3 separate regions of the Homo sapiens genome follow, and all the other regions are linked to region 1. Evidence: fine-mapped expression QTL. A gene starts in region 1. Each other region holds a variant in brackets. All regions are shown on one strand. Distances are from middle to middle. Region 1 holds the start of CPNE7 (copine 7). Region 2 has its middle 11 kb from the start of DPEP1. Region 3 overlaps ACSF3 (acyl-CoA synthetase family member 3).

The links. PIP is the estimated chance that this variant, and not a neighbour inherited with it, causes the effect.
Region 2: its variant is the best candidate, but not a certain one, in a credible set for the expression of CPNE7 in whole blood (TOPMed, PIP 0.57).
Region 3: its variant is the best candidate, but not a certain one, in a credible set for the expression of CPNE7 in visceral fat (GTEx, PIP 0.65).

Annotation. Positions count from the first base shown.
Region 1 is chr16:89,571,883-89,579,467 of GRCh38, forward strand. CPNE7 (copine 7) reads left to right here and starts at 3,876. Exons shown (of 15, transcript NM_153636.3): 1 at 3,876-4,189; 2 at 5,657-5,839. The coding sequence starts at 4,016. RefSeq lists silencers at 2,082-2,339, 2,800-3,029, 3,270-3,339.
Region 2 is chr16:89,599,317-89,606,223 of GRCh38, forward strand. No RefSeq gene overlaps it. Among named protein-coding and RNA genes, the nearest start is that of DPEP1, 11 kb to the right of the region's middle. RefSeq lists an enhancer at 218-1,131. The variant C/A (reference allele first, on the strand shown) is at 3,727.
Region 3 is chr16:89,116,097-89,123,681 of GRCh38, forward strand. It overlaps ACSF3 (acyl-CoA synthetase family member 3), which reads left to right. Exons shown (of 11, transcript NM_001243279.3): 7 at 4,705-4,817. Among named protein-coding and RNA genes, the nearest start is that of ACSF3, 26 kb to the left of the region's middle. RefSeq lists a silencer at 2,425-2,719 and an enhancer at 2,425-2,719. The variant A/G (reference allele first, on the strand shown) is at 3,596.

The DNA of each region.
Region 1 (7,585 bases):
CTGCTGGGCAGAGATGCTGGGGGCTGGGATGGTCTGCTCCTGGCTGCATGCAGACAAGGGGCAGGAGGGATGGCGGCCCGGGGCTGCACGCGAGAACGCGCCTGGAGGAGAAGGGAGTCTCGAAGAAGGGGGTCTCATCCACACCCAGAAGACGGTGTTGGGGGAAGGAAGTGGAGGAAGGGGACCCCCTGGTTGGAACATATGTTGCCCTGGGGTGGCCTGTGTCTGCGCTTGTGTGTCTTGGGTGCCTGGCGTGTCTGCGTGTGGGCTGTCTCTCCATGAGTACGTGCACGTGTCTGCGGTATTTGGCACACGTGTGTGGCGTGTGCTCGTGCGTGCCTGCATGTGCTGAGTGTGGTGGAGGAGAAAGTCCCCCTAATCAGTCCCCAGGTCTCTGAGGCTGTAACAAGGTCAGCGAGGAACTGAGACTGGCCAGGTGTGTTGTCTCAGCCAACAGCCGGCGTGGCCGCCTCTGGGCATGGTTGATTTCTCAAATAAGATCAGCATCAGATCCTGCAGGAAGACAATCTGATCCAGACAGGTTGCAGATGTTCTAAGATAAAATAACCTTTCTTTAGGAGGAAAGAAAAGAAGAGGGTAGGTTTGCAACCAGATTAAAAAAAGCAGCACCCATCCGGACACGTGGAGAGCTGTTTCCTGTTAAACAATCCTGTTAGTAACCCCCACCCTCTGCAATTTCTTGTTTTGAGGCAACTTCTGGGACAATCTCTCCACATGAAGGGCAGGTTCGAGGACCCTGCATTCAGGGGTGGGGACCGAGCCCCGGACCGGTCCACTGGAGCACACCAGCTGTGTGCTCAGGACGGCCAGGGAGGAGGCCATGGACTCTGGACCTGGCTCAGGGACAAAGGGCTGTCAGAGTGTGGGGGAGAGCACTGGCTCCAGGGGATGTGCCTCAAGGCAGTAGCAGTGGGCCTGGGGTCTGCCGGGAACCTCTGGAGGCCCTGGACAGGTTTCCCTGCTCCCGGTTGGCCTCGTGGCCAGTGTTACTGAAATGGGAGATGGGGACTCTGTGACTGATGGAGATGACACCCTCGAGGCAGATCCAGGACCAGAGAGCAGCCACCAGAGCTGCGTTTCATTCGCTGATCCGCACTTCATTCATCCGCCTGGAGTTTGTTGTCTTAGACTCTGTGTTGGGACCTGTACTGGTGTTAACTCAGGCCTCGGTGGACTCCTGGTCCAGGGTGGATGAGGTCATGGGCAGCACAGCCCTGGACAGTGGAACTGATGTTGTGGACGTGTGGGCCGGGAGCCCAGGGAGGGATGTTGGGTGGCGGTTCAGACTGGGCTGGGCTTTGCAGGGTAGGTAGGGGTCGGGTGGTGGGAGAGGCTGAGGCAGAGGCACTTGGGCCTGAAAAGTATCTGAGTCCTGGATGCCAGGAAGCCACACAGGGCACTTGGGCACAGATATGTCATTGCTGCTCCTAAAATTGATCATGTGTAAGCCTCTGGATAGCCGTGGGGGTCGGCACTAATCAGAGGGTCTCATAGGTAACCCAGTGATGAGGGGATCCAGGCTAACCATTGAATGCAATATTGTCAATAAGAAAGAAAAAAGCAGGTTACAGAACAGAAACCATCTGCACCAACACCTATGGTGCTCCAACCGTGCCAGGCAGGGTCCCGGGCCTGGGCCGCGTGATGAGCCTGGCGTGGGGTCCCGGGCCTGGCCCGCGTGATGAGCCTGGCGTGCAGATACTGAAGAGTCCTCTCAAGTGTGGGAAGGGCTCTGAGAGTTAGGCACCTTTTTTTTTTTTTTGACAATTAAAAGAAATTTGCACATAAAAAAAAAAACCTGGAGGGTTAGATGTGGGGAGGTGATGGGCTGCTTTGGGGTCTGGAAATTTGTTTTTACTCCCTATCTGCATTGTCTAATATTTCAACAAGGAACACGGTTATTATTCCTGCGTGTATGTGTGTGGATCTCATTTCCTGTGTCTGGCCCTGCAGGGAAAGCTGGGAGGGGGAGCCTTGGAAAGATGGCTCCACATGGCCTGCGGGGTCCTTCCATTGTACCTGGGCCTACTGCGGGCTGATCCCTGAGCAGGGGCAGGCAGCGTCCAGACACCAGTGCCACAGGGGAATCGGCTTTTCCTTCTGTGGTTTCTCTCCATTAGAGCAGGCTGCAGTCAGGGCTGTCAGTCAGGAGACAGCAAGCCGGCCGAGGGCTGTGGCTGGAGATCCCAAATCGCCCTGGGCTTCAGAGACTCAAATTCCCAAACTCTGTGATCTTTCTTGGCTCCCTGCGTCCTTTGCTTGGAAGCCATCTGTTATTTTGCCAGGGTGCCGCTATGTGACAGCCAAGGGCTGAACTGGGGTGTTCCAGGTTTAAGCCGGGTACCCCTCAGACAGCCTGGTGGACCTCAGGCCTCACGCCACACTGCAGACGAGCAAACCTCAGGGCGGTGGTGAGGAGCTTTCGGGTGAGGTCAAGGCAGGAAGCGGAGCTTGGTCTGGGGAAAACTGTCCCAGGGCTGCTGGAACCGAGCGGGAGGCACGGCCTGCAGGAGCTGCCTGGGCGCCCGCACCCTTTGCCTGAATTTCGCATCCTTTTCCCATGGAAGTGGTTGGGGACCGAGGATGTGGCCTCCCGGCAGCCTGGAAGGCTGGGCTGAGGAGGACACAGGGCCGGGAAGGCCCAGACTGGTCCCTAGAGAGCGGGACTGGCCTCTGCCCACTGCGGGCTTCAGGGAGGAGGCGCAGAGGCCGGGGAGACAGCAGATGGGGCCCTGCAGGCCTCGCTGCGCCCTGACCTGTTCCTCGCCTCTTTAGCCAACCTCCCGGGAAGGCAGGAGCCGGTCTCCATGGCCTCTCCCGGCCCTGCCAGCCCCGTGGGGCCTCCCCGCCCTGCAGCCGCGCCCGGCGCCATCCCGCCGTCCGACCGCGAGGGGACGCCGCTGGCCGCGTTCCTCCTCCCAGGCCGAGGCTGCCTGTGCTGCCTCCCGCCGGCGGGGCCCTGAGCCTCCTCGCCCTGTCGGCGGCGGTCCCCTCTGACCGCAGGGTCTTCTTCTAGAGTCCTGATCGCCGAGGCTGAGCGGAGGCGCCCGGTCTTCCCGCCTCTTCAGTCTTAATGTCTCCCTCACCCTCGCCCCCCACCCCCGTGGCTTTTGGCGAGGTCCGTGCCCTATTTTTAGGCAGAAATCGGCAAAAAGAGTGGACTGCGAGGTGGTTTCTGTCCCCGCCGACGCCTCCTCTTCCGCTGCTCCCTCCCCCGGGACCGGTGATGGGGAAGGTGGGGGAGTGAGTTCAGGGCGGAGCGGGCCCACCCCCCACGGAACCCAGGCCTGCCCCGCCCCGCCCCGGCCTCGGGGGACTGGTGTGGACCGTGCCCCGCGGACCCCTCGGAATCAGACCGCGATTCAGCCCTCGGCCCCCCGGGACGGTCCTTCCAGCCCCAGACGAGCGCGGCGCCTGCACACAACAGGCGCCCACTAAATGCTTGTTGATGGAGGTGGCGAGTACCCGAAACCAGCGGAGCCTGGAAATGGGATCCTAGAGATCCGGGAAGGGCGCGGGGATCTGGTGCCAAGCTGGGGTCCCCCTTTTGCCTCCCCTAGTGTCTGCCTGGGTCCGAACCCGGGCTCAGGCCCCGCGCAGCTCGGAGCCTCCAGCCCGGAGCCGGTCCCTGGGCCGGGGATGCGCACAGCCGGGGAGGGCGCGCCCGACCTGACCCCAAAGCTATCAGTTGGGGGGGGGGTCCCCGGGGAATTAGAAGCTGTCTCCTCCCGGGCATCTCCGAGGGGCACCCCTGCCTCTGCCCCCTGCCCTCATTTCCCGCCGCGCCCCTCCCCGGCCCCGCCCCCCGGCCGCGCCCCACCCCCTGCAGTCCCCGCGCGGCGGCCGCCCGAGCCACGTGCGCCCGCGCCCGGCAGGCGTTCAGGGAAGCGCGGCCACGCCTGGGCCGGCCACCATTTCCCGGGCGCCGCGGCGGCGCCGACTCGCGGGCAGCGGCCCCTCAGTGCGCCCAGCCGGGCCCCCGAACGCCGGGAGCATGAGCGCGGGCTCGGAGCGCGGGGCGGCGGCAACCCCCGGGGGTTTGCCCGCGCCCTGCGCCTCGAAGGTGGAGCTGCGGCTCAGCTGCCGGCACCTGCTGGACCGCGACCCGCTCACCAAGTCCGACCCCAGCGTGGCGTTGCTGCAGCAGGCGCAGGGCCAGTGGGTGCAGGTAGGGCCGGGGCGTGGGAGGCCGAGAGGCCACCGGGCCGGGGCTGGCGCCGAGCTGGGGATGCGGAGACCAGAGCGGGCGCGCTGAGGCCAGTGGGGCGCAAGGCGGGGCCCCCCGGAGCTGGGGCTCAGCTCGGGGTCAGGGTTGGGGGTTACCAGGTCTGGGGGTGGGGTGTCCAGAGCTGTGGGGAGAGGCTGGGCTGGAGGAGGTGGCGGCGAGCGGGGTTCGGAGGAGAGAGGGGGGTGCCCCGCAGTGAGGGGTGCGGCCCAGGGTTCGGGGAGGGGGCCCCGGGCCAGAGTGAAGCGCCCAGGCATGAGGCGCGGGCAGGGGGCTCGACCAAGAGGCGCAAGGAGATTGAGGGGTGAGGGGCGCCGGCCGACGGGGGGCGGGAGGCTGGGCGGGAGCAGGCCGGCGAGGGAGCGCGCGCTGGGGTGCGGACCTCCAGGCGTCCGGGGCTCCCGCTCCAACGTGGGTCTCAAGCGAACCCGCTGTGATCGCGGTTGGGGTCCGAAGGGGCACGGGGCCGGCGCCAGACGGGCGCTTCCTCGGTCACCATCTCGCGTGAAACGCGTGGCTTCACCTCGAAAGGGCGAGAAACGCATGGCGCGAAGCCGCAGCGGGCGGAGGAGCCGGAACTCGAACCCCAGTCCGCGCGGGGCGCCAGCGCTTTTCCCCGGCGCAGGGGTCTCTCCAGGCTCCAGCGCGGGCCCGGGCGGCTGCTCGGGCGGTGGAAGGGACGCGGTCACCCGGTGGCGTCTCCGGTCATCCACCTTGAGGGTGAAGGGCCTGCCCCGCCCTCACCGCCTGTCCCCAGGGTTCCGGCTGCCCCCGGAGGCCCCGTGCCCGCCCCTCACAGCCTGAGCCCACCCTTCACATCCCGAGCCCACCATCCCCACGGAGGCCTCGTGCCCGCACCCTCAGAGCGTGAGCTGTACGGGTGGCCCATGTTTGCCCTTGGTTTGAGGTGCAGGATTTTTCAGGATTCTGAAATGAGTAGCCTACTGGCCCAGCTGGGTCTTGTCCTTACGGGGCAGTTGGACCAGGGAACTGCATGGGATGGGAGAGGCTGGTGAGCCCATGGTACCCCAGCCAGGAGGGAGGGCCCCCCTGTACCCTACGCCCCCTCCCCACTCAGCTGGTGCTGGGGAGCGGCCTGCACTTTAGGGCTGCCCAGCCCAGGGTGTGAATCTGATCTCGCCCCCGACTCAGCGTGTCATTCTCGTCCTCTGTGAGCCTCACTTTCCCCATCTGTGATCTGAGGGTGGAGCAGACAGTGGTGGCCAGGGGTGACCCCCAGGGTGGCCCTCGGGATTGTGGTCCCATGGACAGAGAGCAGGCAGGAGGTCTTCCCAGGGTATGAGTCCTCCTGAGGTACCTGGGCGTGGGTGAGCGGCAGAGGGGAGATGGAGGTCTGGAGCCCGGGGTGGAAGCCTCTGGAGTGGGGTCGGCTCACAGGTGCACTTGCAGGTGGGCAGAACCGAGGTGGTCCGGAGCAGCCTGCATCCCGTGTTCTCCAAGGTCTTCACGGTGGACTACTACTTCGAGGAGGTGCAGAGGCTGCGCTTTGAGGTGTACGACACGCATGGGCCCAGCGGCTTCAGCTGTCAGGAGGACGATTTCCTGGGGGGCATGGAGTGCACCCTGGGGCAGGTGGGTGCCCCGTCCCCTCGGAGGGAGGAGGACGGTTGGCGTGGGGGCCACAGCCGATTCAAGGCTGATGTACCAGCACCGCAGGGACCCTGCTGGGGTGGCCAACCTGGCTCTGCCCCCTCCTCAGCTCCTCCTGAACAGTCATTATTAGATTAAAATATACATGTAATTTTGAACTGGGTAATACATTCGTATGTTTTAAAGCCTGAAGGTATAAAAGGCTGTGGAGCGCCTCCATCCTGCCCCATCCAGCTGCTGCCAGGTCCCTGGACATTGTCCAGAGAGAGATTTTCACAGGAGCAAACCAGCCTATCACTTTTCCTCTTTTTTCTTTTTTTTCTTTTTCTTTTTTTTTTTTTTTGAGATGTAGTCTCGCTCTGTCACCCAGGCTGGAGTGCAGTGGCGTGATCTCGGCTCACTGCAACCTCCACCTCCTGGGTTCAAGCGATTCTCCTGCCTCAGCCTCCTGAGTAGCTGGGATTACAGGCACCCGCCACCACGCCCGGCTAATTTTTGTATTTTCAGTAGAGACGGGGTTTCACCATGTTGGTCAGGCTGCTCTTGAAATCCTGACCTCGTGATCCGCCTGCCTTGTCCTCCCAAAGTGCTGGGATTACAGGCGTGAGCCACGGTGCCCAGCCCACTTTTCCTCTTTTTTCAAAAATACACAAATTACGTTCCCTGTTCTGCATCCTGCGTTTTCACTTCCACGACGTGCAGCAGCCCCTCCATATCAGCACCTAAAAGTCTCCTGGTGGCCGGCCGTGGTGGCTCACACCTGTGATCCCAGCACTGTGGGAGGCCGAGGCGGGCAGATCACTTGAGGTCAGGAGTTCGAGACCAGCCTGGCCAACATGCTGAAACCTCATCTCTACAAAAAGTACAATAATTAGCCGGGCATGGTGGCATGTGCCTGTAATCCCAGCTACTCTGGAGGCTGAGGCAGGAGAATCGGTTGAACCCGGGAGGCAGAGGTTGCAGTGAGTGGAGATCTCACCACTGCACTCCAGCCTGAGTGACAGATTGAGACTCTGTCTCAAAAAAAAAAAAAAAAAAAGAAGCCTCCTTGTGAGCAGCAGGTCCTACGGTGGCCACTGCTTCCTTGGTGATGCTCTCTGGGTTACGGCCTCCACAGCCAGCCCAAAAGTGGCTTCTGCAAGTCGTGATGAGAGTGTCTGTTGATGTGCTGGGCCCTGCTGGACACTGCGCTAAGCACTTCCTGTGCTGCACGGAATCCTCACACCTTGCCAGGACGGGTCCTTCTTTTTTATTGAGGTAAAATTTACAGGCCGGGCACGGTGGCTCACGCCTGTAATCGCAGCACTTTGGAAGTCCGAGGTGGGGGGATCACGAGGTCAGGAGTTCGAGACCAGCCTGGCCAACATGATGAAACCCCATCTCTACTAAAAATAGAAAAGAAATTAGCCAGGCGTGGTGGTGCGTGCCTGTAGTCCCAGCTACTGGGGAGGCTGAGGCAGGAGAATCACTTGAACCTGGGAGGCAGAGGTTTCAGCGAGCCGAGATCGCGCCACTGCACACCAGCCCAGGTGACAGTGAGTCTTTGTCTCAAAAAAAAAAAAAAATTTTACGATAAAATGCATCAATCTTAAGGGTTGAGAATGACAAGTTTAGGTGACTGTACACAGCTGACCATCACCCGTCACACAGAACATCCCGTCACACGGAACATCTCACCTGTCACACAGAACATCCCTTCACCCCTCACACGGAACATCCTGTCACCTG
Region 2 (6,907 bases), 27 kb after region 1:
AGTATCCGGGCCCTGTGCTGATTGGGGGTCTCAGGGGCTGGGCAGAGGGTGAGTATCGGGGCTGGGGCCCTGAGCGGGTCGGGGGTCTCAGGGGCTGGGACAGAGGGTGAGTGTTGGTGCCCTGTGCCACCTGCCTGTGGTTTTTGGGCCAGAAAGTGTCAGACGGTTTCTGGGCTGACTCAAAGTCGAGAGGTGTTGGTCCATTGAGATCTTAGCAGGAAGCAGGTGTGCCGAGGAGTCTACCTCAGAACAGGGTTGGGGCGGCCACAGTGGGGCGCCAGGGAGCTGACCTCAGACAGACAGGGATGGGCAGGTCACTCGGTGAGCTGGCGCCCTGGAGGGAGTGTGTCCCTTCCCAGAACTGCTGCCTTACAGGGATGTGGCCACTCCCAGACCCCTATGGAGCAAGCAGGGAGTGGCTGTGAGCACCCCAGCCCCCTCCTCCCACCCTCTCTTCTCCTGCCGTCCTCCCATGGCAGAAGGCAGCAGCCCTGGGGTCAGGCCAGTGGGCAGGCTGGGCCACCCTGGTCTCTGTGCTGCTGGGTGTCTGGGGTGTGTTTGAGACCATCGAGGGACAGCAGGGACAGGATGGCGTCTGCCAGCTCAGCTCTGAGAATGTGACTTTCGCCAGCAATTCCCAGCCTGAGAAAGCAGCCCAACGTTGCTCAGAGACGCACGCAATAATAATTTGACTTCTCCCCCTAACCCCGTGGGTCACTGGGATGAACACAGGATCCAGGCCTGGCCAGGCAGGGGCTGCTGCCTCCTGGCCACAGTGCTTGCTCCAGGGATGGACGTGCCCCAAGCTGGCCCGTGAGACTCAGTTCTGGGACCCCTTGTTTCTTCCTGGCTTGAGGAGCTGTGGACAGTGACCACTTAGCGGGGTCACATGGGCAGGGCCTGCCTGGGAAGGACACTACCCAGAGAGCTGGTGGCAGGTGCATGCTCAGGCCTGCTCCTGTCAGGCCTGCTCCTGAGCCGATACTTCCCATTGAGGAGCCATGAGCTCCCTTTCTGATTAGCTCAGGTGGGACTGGGTTTCTGTCATTTGCCACCCAAGGATCCTGCCCCAAAAGGATGACAGATGCTCCTTTTTCACAGACAAGAAAATCAGGGTTCAGCACAGTGAGGTGCCCTGCCCAAGGTCACACAGCCAGTCAGAAGCAGAGGTGCTAGCTTTGTGTAGCTGGTGTGCACACACACACAGAGCAACATGTATACACCTGTGCACACACACGCGCACCCACACATCCATGCACACACATGCACCCACACGCACCCACACATCCACGCACGCACACGTGCACCCACGCATCCATGCACAGACATGTGCATACATGCCTAACACATCCACACGGACACGTGCTTAGCCGGGACCTGCAGGCTCCAGGCTGAGTCCTAGGAATTGAGATGCTAGTTCTGCAGTTCCTGTAGGTCCACCTGTCAGGCATCTTCCTCCCCGGGGTGTGACATCCGGCTCTGAAACCCAGAGGGGCCCCTAGGGCAGGGCAGTCAGGGGTCCTGCCGGCCGGTGTGGAGACCCCCAGGTGAGACCAATGGGTTCCCTGAGTCTTCAGCCCCTCCTGACCTCGAATTAGAGCCTGACCCTTGCTGAGAATAGCCTGGGTATGACCTGCCTGGATGTGGACTTATTTCCCAAATAAGAAGCAGAAAGTGTGTAGCTGCCAGGACCCCACAGCAAGGGCCACCATGGGACCCAGTCCAGGGACTGCCTGCAGCAGGCGGAGGAGCTCCTCCTCGGGGGTGGATTTGAGATTTGGAAACAGCCTCAGTCAAGCTGGACACCAGCTCCCGCTGTGTGACCCTGGACAAGCCATCACAGTCTCAGTGAGTCAGAGCCTTGTTCCTTGCCTGTCACGCGGATATAGCAGCTTTGAAACATGGCTCTAGACTCCTCAGCCCCTTCCATTGGAAGTTGGTTTATGTTCCTTCTTCTTGAACCTAGGAAGACTTCGGTCCAATGTGGCTTATTTTTGTTTGTTTTTGAGATGGAGTCTCGCTCTGTCACCCGGGCTGGAGTGCAGCGGTGGGATCTCAGCTCACTGCAACCTCCGCCTCCCGGGTTCAAGTGATTCTCCTGCCTCAGCCTCCCAAGTAGCTGGGATTACAGGCGCGTGCCACCACACCTGGCTAATTTTTGTATTTTTTTTTTTTTTTTTGAGACGGAGTCTGGCTCTGTCGACCAGGCTGGAGTGCAGTGGTGCGATCTTGGCTCACTGCAAGCTCCGCCTCCCAGGTTCATGCCATTCTCCTGCCTCAGCCTCCCGAGTAGCTGGGACTACAGGCGCCCGCCACTATGCCCGGCTAATTTTTTGTATTTTTAGTAGAAACAGGGTTTCACCGTGTTAGCCAGGATGGTCTCGATCTCCTGACCTCGTGATCCACCCGCCTCAGCCTCCCAAAATGCTGGGATTACAGGCGTGAGCCACCGCACCCGGCCAATTTTTGTATTTTTATTTGTATTTTTAGTAGAGACAGGGTTTCACCATGTTGGCCAGGCTGGTCCTGACCTCAAGTGATCCACCCACCTCGGCCTCCCAAAGTGCTGGGATTACAGGCGTGAGCCACTGTGCCTGGCCCCCACGTGGATTCTGACACCCCACGGTAAGAATGCTGGGCGCTGCTCCCGTGCTCAGGAGATGTGGCTCCCGGGAAACTGACGATGCTGCGAGGAAGCTCAAGCGCCCGCACCCCAGCTGAGCTCCCGGCTGGCAGCCAGTGCCAGGGGCCACCATGCGAGTGCACCACCTCCAGCAGCTCCTGTAGCCCCGGGCAGGATGCCCTGCCTGCATCCTCACGAGAGGCCTGAGCCAAAGCCACACGGCAAATCCTCGTGTGGATTCCTGACCCAGGTCGTGGCCCGGGTTAATCCACGGTTGCTGTTCGAAGCCACTCGGTTTGGGCGTGATGAGTCGTAGGGCAGGAGGTAACAGACACATCCTCTTTCCCAGGGATCTTGTGAGGAATGAACGAGGGATGCAGGAGCCCCTGCTGGATAAATAGGTGTCAGTTTCACAAGGGGAGCCGGCTTCTCCTTATTCTCAGGAACCACCAATCACAGCTGCTGAGCATCCCCCACCCTGTCTTGCTGGCCACCGGCTGCCTGGGCCTCACAGGCTGAGGACGCGGGGTCAACCCCTGCCCACCCATGCGCGGAGTCGGATGAGGGCTCTGACTCGGTGGGTGGGGGGGGCAGCTGGAGGGAGTGGGAAGAGCAGCAGCTCAGCGTCCAGGCTGTTCTTTCTCCTGCTGCCGAGGCGAGTACAGGCAGGAAGTTGTGACTAAGTGCTTGTAATTGGTGCGGGGGCTGTGGCAGGGCTGTCAGACAGGAGTACCGCCGGCCCCTGGCACAGCAGGGCCGTGGGCGAAAGCTGTCTTCCTTGCCACCTCACGCCTCACCTGTCCCTGCACTGGGGCCCCACCCCCATCAGAGCCCACCCAGGACCCCTGTCCAGCTGGTGCCTCCCTCCCCTCACCCCATCAAGACCCACCACAGCCCAGGAGTACTGAGTATTCCAGTACTCACTGAGCTAAGTTCCCACAACAACCCCGCCTGGCTGACTGTTGTGAGTGCATCTCACTGACGGGACGGCCGACCTCAGAAAAACCCTAGGTGCACTGCTGGGGAGGCAGGGCAGGGTGGCGAGCTGGGTCTGGCCCCTGGGTTCCCAGCACTCAGCCTGGAGCCCCTAGGTCCTGGCTGAG[C/A]ACATGTGTGTCTGTTAGGCATGTGTGCGTGCATGTGTGCATAGGCATGTGTGGGTGCATGGATGCACGGGTGCATATGTGTGCATGGGTGTATCTGTGTTGCTCTGTGTGTGCATAGGCATGTATGCATGTGTGCATGTGTGTGCATGCATGTGTGTGCATGGATGTATGGGTGCATACGTGTGCACAGGTGTAGATGTGTTGCCCTGTGCATGTGGAAGAGGCTGGAGTGGGGGTGTTGGTCCTCACTGCTTTACTGAAACATCTTTAGGAGCCCCAGTTGCACTGGGACTTGGCCACACTGCCAGCCCTCCCCATCCCAGGCAGTCAGCATCCAGACCCCAGGTGGAGCAAGTGACGTGCAAGGTCTTGGTGCCCCATTACTCCACCAGGACAGTACATTATCATCCCACTGTGCAGAGAAGCACTGGGGGCTGGAGGGAGGCACTGGGGGCTGGAGGGGGGCACTGGGGGCTGGAGGGGAGCCCTGGGGGCTGGAGGGAAAGCCCTGGGGGCTGGAGGGGAGCACTGGGGGCTGGAGGGGAAGCCCTGGGGGCTGGAGGGGAGCCCTGGAGGCTGGAGAGGAAGCCCTGGGGGCTGGAGGGGAGCCCTGGGGGCTGGAGGGAAAGCCCTGGGGGCTGGAGGGGAGCACTGGGGGCTGGAGGGGAAGCCCTGGGGGCTGGAGGGGACCCTGGGGCTGGAGGGGAAGCCCTGGGGGCTGGAGGGGAGCCCTGGAGGCTGGAGGGGAGCACTGGGGGCTGGAGGAAGCACTGGGGGCTGGAGGGGAGCACTGGAGGCTGGAGGGGAAGCCCTGGGCTGCAGAGGAGCATTGGGGGCTGGAGGGAAGCAGTGGGGGTTGGAGGGGAGCACTGAGGGTTGGAGGGGAGCACTGGGGGCTGGCAGGAAGCACTGGGGGCTGGAGGGGAGCACTGGGGGCTGGAGGGGAGCACTGGGGGTTGGAGGGGAGCATTGGGGGCTGGAGGGGAGCACTGGGGGTTGGAGGGGAGCACTGGAGGGGCTGGAGGGAAGCACTGGGGGCTGGAGGGGAGCACTGGAGGCTGGAGGGGAAGCCCTGGGGGCTGGAGGGGAGCCCTGGGGGCTGGAGGGAAGCACTGGGGGCTGGAGGGGAGCACTGGAGGGGCTGGAGGGAAGCACTGGGGGCTGGAGGGGGAGCCCTGGGGGCTGGAGGGGAGCACTGGGGGTGGGAGGGGAAGCCCTGGGGGCTGGAGGGGGTCACTGGGGGCTGGAGGGGAGCACTGGGGGCTGGAGGGGAGCACTGGGAGTTGGAGGGGAGCACTGGGAGTTGGAGGGGAGCACTGGGCGCTGGAGGGGAGCACTGGGGGTTGGAGGGGAGCACTGAGGCCTGGAGGGGGAGCATTGGGGGTTGGAGGGGAGCACTAGGGGCTGGAGGGGGAGCATTGAGAGCTGGAGGGGAGCACTGAGGGCTGGAGGCGAAGCACTGGGGACTGGAGGGGAGCACTGGGGGCTGGAGGGAAGCACTGGGGTTTGGAGGGGAGCACTGAGGGCTGGAGGGGAGCACTGGGGGCTGCAGGGGAGCAGTGGGGGCTGGAGGGGAGCACTGGGGGCTGGAGGGGAGCATTGAGGGCTGGAGGCCAGGGCTGGAAGGGACTGTTCTCCTCATCCCGTGGGTGAAAGCCAGGGCCTCAGGTTGGGCACACAGGGCCTTCCTCAGGCAGCCACAGCTGAAAAAGTTTCCATTTCACAGCCATAGGTGGAACCCCACGTCCCCACCGGGACCCCCCATTCTGTGCACATACACCCTACATGATCCCCACACCCAGTTAACGTCCTTCCTGCAGACACACAGCTACACATCGGTGTCCACACAAAAGTCCAGACAGACTTGTGGGCCAACAGACACACAAGAGCGGGTGGGGTGGGGAGCAGCGGCTGCGGGTGGCCCTGGGTGAGGACGTTGCGGCTGGGGAGTCGGGCCTAGGCGGCCAGGTTGGTGGGATGCATTGCCAAGGAGACCATGAAGGCTCTGCGGAGGCCCCAGGTGTTGACTGGTGCCTGAAATTGACCACGGCAGACGTACTCCCTTGTCTGGAAGGCCGTTCTGTTACAAGGCCGGAGAGGCAGCCCTTGGGCTCCCATGGGCTGCACAGGTGCCTGCAAGGGGGTTCGGGTGGTGGGGTTCAGTCCCCAGTGTCTGGGGGGACTGAGGCCTGCTGGGGCAGTGTGGATGGTGTAGTGTGAGCCATCCTGCCCAGACCTCGCCCCAGCCACCGCACCTTACCTGACTTGGGCAATGTCACCAGGTGGACGTCGGTGTCCTGGGACTGGAAGTTACGTGCGTCCTGCCAGGGCTCCTGGGCGCGCATGTTCCCTGGCAAGCAGGTGCAGGTGATGGCCTGGACCACGTCCCTGTCTACTGCGTCCTCTGCTGTGGGTCAGTGCCTGCCGGGTGGCGCAGGCAGGGAGTGCAGCCGGAGGGCTCCGTGGGGGGGTCTGTTATCCACACGTGCCCTACCAGAGGCCCAGGCAGGTTCTAGCAGGTGGACACCAGCTCCGCCATCCCCACCGTTAAATACTAGCAGAGGCCCACATTCAGGTGCCCTCCCAGGACCAGCCTCAGCCCTCGTCAGCCTTGCCTGCCGCCTTGGCCAGGGAAGGCCTTTCCTCAGCAGGAGAGAGACGGTGCTCTGGGCAAGTACCCGCTGGCCCCGGGGCTGTGGGATTCCGCTGCCAGCACCACCCACGGTCCCTGTAGTCTGCTCTTCAGTGGCAAACGGGCGTGGCTGGGATGCGTGGGCCTCCGGTGGGAAGGGCCCTTGGGGAGTACCTGTCTCCCTCCCAGAAGCCTCAGAGCCACGGTGGGGCGGCCGTGGTAGATTCTGCCACAGTCCTCACCTCCCAGGCAAAAACCTCCATTCAATCTTCACGTAGCAGCTGCCCGGCCTGGGCTGGTGTGAGGGGGGGCTCCCGCAGGCAGGGGTGGGTCTGGATTCCCAGGCAGCCCCTGCCATCAGTCCTCATGCTGTCTTGCCTTCCCCTTCCCCTGCCTCCAGGGAGGACGGCAGAACAGCCCAGGTGCCTGAGGTCGAGTCCCCGCACTCACCACCACGTCACCTCCACCGGCCGTGCCAAGAAAGCTCCTCTCTGGAAACATCTGTGCCACGAAGCCCAGGAGCAGGTGGTGGCCAAGGCAGGGGCAGGC
Region 3 (7,585 bases), 460 kb before region 1:
GATCCATTTTGAGTTAATGTTTGTACATAGTGCGAGATACGGACCACAGTTCTTTTTTAGTGTGTGAATGTCTAACTTTTTAGCACTGTTCGTTGAAAAGACTCCCTTCTCCATCGAACAGCCCTTTGGATCTTTGTTGAAAGTCCGTCGACTCCTGAGGGGTCGGCTCCTGGGCTCTGCTCTGTCCCATTGCTTTCCGTGTGCCCTTTGGCTCATTCCATGCCTGCTTGGTTCCTGGGACTCTAGGGTAAGCGTGGACATGGGGGTTCAGGCCCAGGCAGGGACCAGCTGGTGCCAGGCAGCGATACGGTGCTGGGGCCTGCAAGGTGAGTGTGAGGGCTGGCTGGCTGCTGGGCTGGGAGGAGGAGAGACTGTAGGCTCACGCCCCTTTGCTGGGCCTGGGGAGCCATGGGGGCTGTTAAGTGTATTCTGAGTGTAAAGTCTCGGTTTGGCTGGGGCATCCTGAGCAGAATGACAGGGCCATGGCAGCGAGATCCTCAGCTGCCGTGCAGAGCTGCCAGTGGGGTGGCCGCACAGAGTGCAGTGCCTGCTGCAACAGTGCCCAGGGCAGTGGGCGGGTGGGGGCATGTTGTGAAAAGAAGTCAGTGTGAGTGATGAGAAATACATCCTAGTCTCAGACCCCAGGAAACCGCCGTCAGTGCTGGTGGCCCCTGCCCTGGGCCGGCTCCCGCGTTAGTCTCAGACCCCAGGAAACCTCCACCTCCGTCAGTGCTAGCGGCCCCTGCTCTGGGCTGACTCGCGCATCTCCACGATGGCTGCGGCACCAGCTGTTTCTTCGGTGGCTAAAGCTCTCTGGTGGAAATAAGATGGGGACCTTGAAATCAAATGTGACTGGTCTGTTGAGTCTCTGTCCTTATCGTTGTCCTTCTTAGTAGGATGTGCTGGTTTTGTCCAGTGCCACCGGCCACAGTCACCACGTAATATGGACGGAATGAGCAAAGCCCGGCTCGCTGAGGCTGCAGGCTGCAGGCAAGTGAGGACTGAAAGGGTAACGGGCTCTGGGCTTTGTCCTCTCTTTGTTCCGGACATGTGAGCAGGACAAGTTCTGTGTATTCAGAATCTGTCTGCACAGTTTGTAGTTCATGATGACTGTTCATCCACAGCATTGCTTTGTGGGCGTCCTCTCTTTTGATCTTCTCGAAACAGCCCCTGCGATGGGGTCATATTTTGCACTCACATACAAGAACCCATGAGCCTGCCCACGGTCACGCGGCTGGTGAGTGATGCACTTCCCAGGAGCACGGTGACCTCTTCAATGGCCCTCACTAGAGAAGATGGACAGTGCCCCCCTAGCCTTTTTTACTGGAACAGATACAAGGCTGAGAAGCTGAAATCAGGAGCAGCCCAGGGACCACTGTCTACACCGAGGGAGTCATGAGCAGCCCAGGGACCACTGTCTACACCCAGGGAGTCAGGAGCAGCCCGGGGACTGCTGTCTACACCGAGGATGTCAGGAGCAGCCCAGGGACCACTGTCTACACTGAGAGCGTCAGGAGCAGCCCAGGGACCGCCGTCCACACCAAGAGCGCCAAGGAGCAGCCCAGGGACCGCCGTCCACACCGAGGGCGCCAAGGAGCAGATAGTAGCCCAGAGACCCAGGGGAGGCTCAGCTTCCCCACGCTGGAATCAGAACTCCTAGGCGAACAGGAAGGAGCCCCAGACAGATGGCACAGGGAGAGGAGTCCCCGGCTGAGGAGGGGGATCCAGAGACCCTGAAGCTTCAGGGTTATTGGGCAAGAAACCTGAGTGCACCAATCCCCGAGTCTTCAGCTACCGACGGCAGGTTCCCTCGGGTGCCGGGGATGCTCCCTCTTCTCTAAGGCAGAGCCCACAGTAGGTTCCCTCAGGCGCCAAGGACATTCCCTCTTCTCTAAGGCAGAGCCCACAGCAGGTTCCCTCAGGCGCCAGGGACGTTCCCTCTTCTCTAAGGCAGAGCCCACGGCAGGTTCCCTCGGGCGCCGGGGACGCTCTCTCTTCTCTAAGGCAGAGCCCACGGCAGATTCCCTCGGGCGCCGGGGACGCTCTCTCTTCTCTAAGGCAGAGCCTGACGGCAGGTTCCCTCGGGCGCCAGGGATGTTCCCTCTTCTCTAAGGCAGAGCATACGGCAGTTTCCCTGGGGCGCCGGGGACGCTCCCTCTTCTCTAAGGCAGAATCAAATATCTGTGATTTTATCCTTGCCTTTAAATCACCAGCAGTGTGAGTTCTTTGGTTTGGAAAAAAGTAAGTAAAGTCACCTCAGCATTAAATCCAATATGCCCCACAAAAACTCCAAAATGCAGCCTCCTGAGCCATGTTTCTAGAGGGCACGGTGGAGGAGAGCTTTCCTCACTCTCAGGCTCTAACCCCCACCCTGGTGGCCATGGCCTTGACCCTTGGGTCGGCTCCAGCCACAGGCTCTGAGCTCATGCTTGGCCTCGCTGCTCAGTGCACTGTCCGTGCTCGGAAGAGAGAGAAGCTGGGTGGAGGGTGAGCTCTGTCGTGTGTTATGGTTACAGGCCTGCTCCGTGCGGTTCCTGTGGAGGGAGATGAATAATTCATGGCCGACCACTGCTGGGCCTCGTCACACTCTAATTGGAGGTTGAGCTCAGAGGTGCTCACGGCTCCTGGGCCACTCTGTGGCATTGACAGGGAGCTCCAGGGCCTCATTGGCGGTTTCCGTTCCCTGGGTCCCAGTCCCCAGTCAGAGTTATCAGGGAGGGGCTGGCTGACAGCGATTTTAGAGGTGGGCTGTGGCAGGAAGGCAGTGCCCCCCACCTGCCTGCAGCTGCGCTCCCATCTACATTGGCCTTTGCGGGGCCAGCCTCTGTCCACTCTCTTGAGCTCTCATGTCCACACTGTCACATGCCCGGGGCACAGCGAGCGGCACCTGGAGTGTGGGGACCCCTCCCTCGAGCTCTCACGGGTGGCACCTGGAGTGTGGGGGCCCCTGCCTCAAGCTTTCATGGGTGGCACCTGGAGTGTGGGGGCCCCTCCCTGAAGCTCTCACGGGCGGCACCTGGAGTGTGGGGGCCACTCCTTGAGCTCTCATGGACAATACCACTGCTTGGCTGCTGCAGAATCCAGACACCATCCCAGAGCCTCTTCAGCCTCTGCAGATGGTGTGGGACGGCCACACGGCCTCCCCACCTGCGGCCCCCGCCCCTACCCCAGCCGTGCCGTGTCCTTGCGCTGCGTCCCCGCCCCAGTAGAGGCATCACCAGGAAGAGGCGAAAGGCCGCCTGTGATGGTCCTCTTCTTATGAAACGCCCAGAACAGAAAAACCACGGACGCGGACAGCAGACCTGGTGCCAGGTCTGGGGAGGGAGGGTGTGGCGGTCGTGGGCTGTGCGGGAGTTCTGACTAGGGGAAGTGGGGGGCTGTGCAATGTGTGTGCGGAACACCGCCGTGCCGCGCACTGAAATGGGAAGTCATGTGTTATGCGGGTTTCACCCCCATTTAAAAATCTTCAGAAGCAAAACATAAAGGAGGAGAAAGGATGGAAGAAAGGGGGCTGAAGCTGGCCCCGCCACACCCCCCATAGTGGTGACACGGGTTTCTGACCAGAGTGGAGGTTCGGGGCGTCTGCATACCTGGA[A/G]CCACAGAGAACTCCCGAGGTGACACTCCGCACACCACACTAGCCCGGCTTCGCCTGCAGGACCCCAGGTGTGGACAGGCCCAGCAGGATCAGCAAGACCGAGCCGGGCACCGACAGCCCCTCACCAAGCGTCTGGAGGCCGGGACGCCCCATGGATTGCAGAGTTCACTGCACTGACCCTCGATGCTGACCCTTGAAGTGCCGGAAATCTCAGCGTGGACTCAGACATGATAAGCGTTCAGGCACTCCCCTGACGCAGGCCAGGGCAAAGGCCTCACGCCCCGGGATAGACAGGAAGTCCCACGTCTGCTCTGCCCCTAGGTCATGCCCGTGCTGACGCCACATCGCCAGGGCCGCACTCCATGAGCAGCCTCTGCCGTCCCACCAGCAACCTAAACCACAGGCAGAGCGAGGCTGCGGCAGCCCTGCGTGTGCCGGCGGGACACGTCTCGCCACCTGGGCTCTGCCCCCACCCCGGCCAGTGTAAGATATGATTTTAGCCACGTTGAGACTGTGCAGGTGGGATGGATACACTGAGCAAATCATGGGTGTCTAATAAATGAGCCAGTACAAAGTGTGGTCCACCTGCCATGCAGAGTTCAGGACAGCCCCTCCTGGGGACATAGGGCAGATCCTGCCTTAGCCCGTCGTGTGCCGGGCACACACAGGTCCCCTCATCGTGGACAGCCCCGGGGCCATCAGGGCAAGGCGCCAGCCCTCCCTGGCCAGCAAGTGTGTAAAAGTGGGAATGACACCAGAATCTGTGGGCAGCTGTGAGGCTTTGGGAAGTAACTGGGAAAGTGATGTATGAGGGGCCCAGGGCAGGCCAGGCCCAGCGTGCCACGTGAGTGCCTGCTGTGCCACATGGCCATCACTGTGGCATCGGCTGGGCCTGAGCACACCGTGCTTGCCAGCCACGTATCGTGTGGCTTTTCACCTGCTGGTGCCTACACCATCTTCTCTCTGGGTCACAGGGCACGTCGCTCCCTCCACACAGACTCCCGCACGTGGCACACGGGAGCTCAGCGGGATCCGAGCTCAGTGTGTGCTTCTCTCCTCCAGGTTCCTCTCACTCCAGCCTCCCCTTCAGTGTTTCTCCTCTCCTGTAGGTTCCGTGGGGACCCCACTGCCTGGAGTACAGGTGCGCATTGTCTCAGAAAACCCACAGAGGGAAGCCTGCTCCTACACCATCCACGCAGAGGGAGACGAGAGGGGGACCAAGGTAAGCCACTCTGCTCTTGGCAGGTGGGCGGCCGTGTGTCCAGTCTAGGCCCCCCAGGGTGGTTACACTGGTGCATCTTTCCCCTGGAGGCAGACTCCCCTCCACGCAGGGGACCAGCCCCCTGGACACTGCAGGTGCTGGCTGGTGTTGCAAGGGCACTGGCTGGTGTTCTGGGCCCTGCCTGCTGCGTGTCCGTCTGTGCGTTCACAGAGCAGTGGGCAGAGGGAGCCCAGGGCGGAACGCCAAAGGGACTCACACCCGGGCACACAGCTCCTCCCAGGGGCCCTGTCCACGGGGACAGGCTGACGTGGGCCATGATGGCCTTGGCTAAGCGGAAGAGATAAAGAGCAGAGGCCGTTGTTGTTGATGGGAATCTGGTTAGAAATATGAACTGGCCTGACCCTGGCACCCGTCCTGAGGGGACGCTGACCACAGGCCCCCATAGTAGGTGTGGGGAGATTCACGGGGCCCTGCACGCGGAGGTGGGTGCCTGTGCAGTGCTCTGTGGCTGCCTCCTTGTCTTGTGCGTTATTCTAAAGCTGACAAGGGTGAACAAGAACAAAGGACATTGTCTCATTTCTGTGAGGATTTTAACATGAGAGTCTGCTCATCACACGTGAACTCATCACAGAGAAAGGTTTAGGGATTATGGGGAAATGGAATCTTGATTTAAAAGGAAATTATTTTCTCTGAAGCCAGTATCCACACCTGATACCACACATGATTGACTGTGTTGCCCTGAGGTTTTCAAAGATCGAGGGATCCTGAGTCTCATCTCTGTGCATTTCCTTCTCTGTGACACCATCTTGGCCCTCACGGGCACAACTGAGCTCCCTGTGCAGAGGCTGAGGGGCCGTGGGCCTTGCTCTCGTGAGTGAACAGCCACACGCCCTCCTTGTACCTTGGTTTCCACACATGACCACGTGAGGGTTGGAGCGATGGTCGTGGTTGGACGTTTTAGCTCCAGCAACCAAGTAGGATGTGGGTGGCTTTCAGTGTCATTAAATGACACTGAAAGGTGCAGTGGCCGCACCTTGTGTGGAGGGCCACACGGCGTGTCCCGCCTGGCCTGGGCCCCCCGCAGTGGGCTGTTATCCCCCGTGGCCCTGAAGTGGGTATTCTGTTTCCCCGTGGAAACCTCTCACCTGGGGCCACCTGCAGTGGCCGCACCTTGTGTGGAGGGCCGCACAGTGTGTCCCGCCTGGCCTGGGCCACCCGCAGTGGGCTGTTATCCCCCGTGGCCCTGAAGTGGGTATTCTGTTTCCCCATGGAAACCTCTCACCTGGGGCCACCTGCAGTGGCCGCACCTTGTGTGGAGGGCCGCACAGTGTGTCCCGCCTGGCCTGGGCCCCCCGCAGTGGGCTGTTATCCCTGTGGCCCCCACAGAGCCATGGGGCAACTTGCTGAAACCCACCTGGGTGGCTGCCCCTTGCTATACCCACCTCCCCTGCCCTCTGTAGGGCCCCAGCCCATGCTGTTGTCCTGACATGCCTCTCCTGGGATTCCTGCCTCTGCCCTGCTGGTACTAGGCTGCTGGCCACACCCCACATCTCAGGTTCCTGAATACACCGGCCCTTCCTGGCTCTCAAGTCTGTGCCCTGCAGTGCCCCTGCCCCCAACTCGAGGACCTCCCAGCTCAGCCAGTTCCAACCCTGTCTGCAGGGACGGGGCTCAGCCTGTGCCTGGGTTGGGGACACCATCTAGTCAGAAATGTCCCCAGCAGAGAGCAGAACGTGAGTGGCGTGTGGAGGAGTGAGACGCCCCGTGGCTGTGCAGCCCTCTCCAGGTGTCAGTCAGCTGACACTCCTGCCTCTGAGCACCTGCTCTGCCGGAAATGGCAGAAATGTTGCCAGAGAAAGGGGCGGAGCGGGGGTGGGGAGCATTTCTGTCTTAAATTAAAACAAAACTTAACTGCTTCACACCTGCATTGGCTGCCGCGCCACCTGATTGCTCCTGCCTGAGTTTCTTTAATTATTTGTGTCTGCTGGTTTCTTCCCTGAAGCAGTCTTGAAATAGAAGCAGCAGCCTCAGCTACCTGGGCACCCTGACAGTCAGAGACACCGCACAGGGGCCTCTGCGACAGGCATGCAGGCAGACCCTGCAAGGTGAAGCCGCACAGATGCTCTGGGGCTGCTTAAATCTCAGCGTACGGGGGGTTTGCATCTGCTGACAGCAGGCCCGGGAACATTTCCAGTTCAGCCAAGGAGTCGGTGCAGCAGGTGGAGTACAGCTGCCCTGCGGGGCCTGGCTCCACCAGGGGCCAAGACCCTTCGTGGGGAGGAGCACAGCCTGAGGGCCTCAGGGTTTGTGCCCTCCGACACCTGAGATTCAGGGCTCCCAGAGGGGTGGGTGGGCGCCCCAGGACAACCAGGTGATGATGGGCGCTGTGAACTCTGAAAAGCCCCAGCATCAGAGACCTGCTGCTCTCTCATGTGAAGGGACTCCCCACCCCACGCTCACACTCGCAGACGCACTTGGTACTTTCATCTGAGTCTCACGCAGTAGCCCTTCTCTCCACAGCATCCCAGAACCCGAGGGTGCCCCTCACTACCACGGTCCCGGATCCACGTGGCTCAAGTGAGGCTGTGGCCGACAGCTGGGCTGTCCGATCCACTCTTGTCTGTGCCGAGGCGTGGGTCCCGGCCAGCGTCCCTCCCCAGAAGGTCTCCCTCAGGACTAGTCATGAGAATGGCCATCCCTAGGCCTGTGGAGTGACTCATGACTGTTCCTGGGCAGATGATCAGCCAGGCCTTCAGAGCTGAATTAAG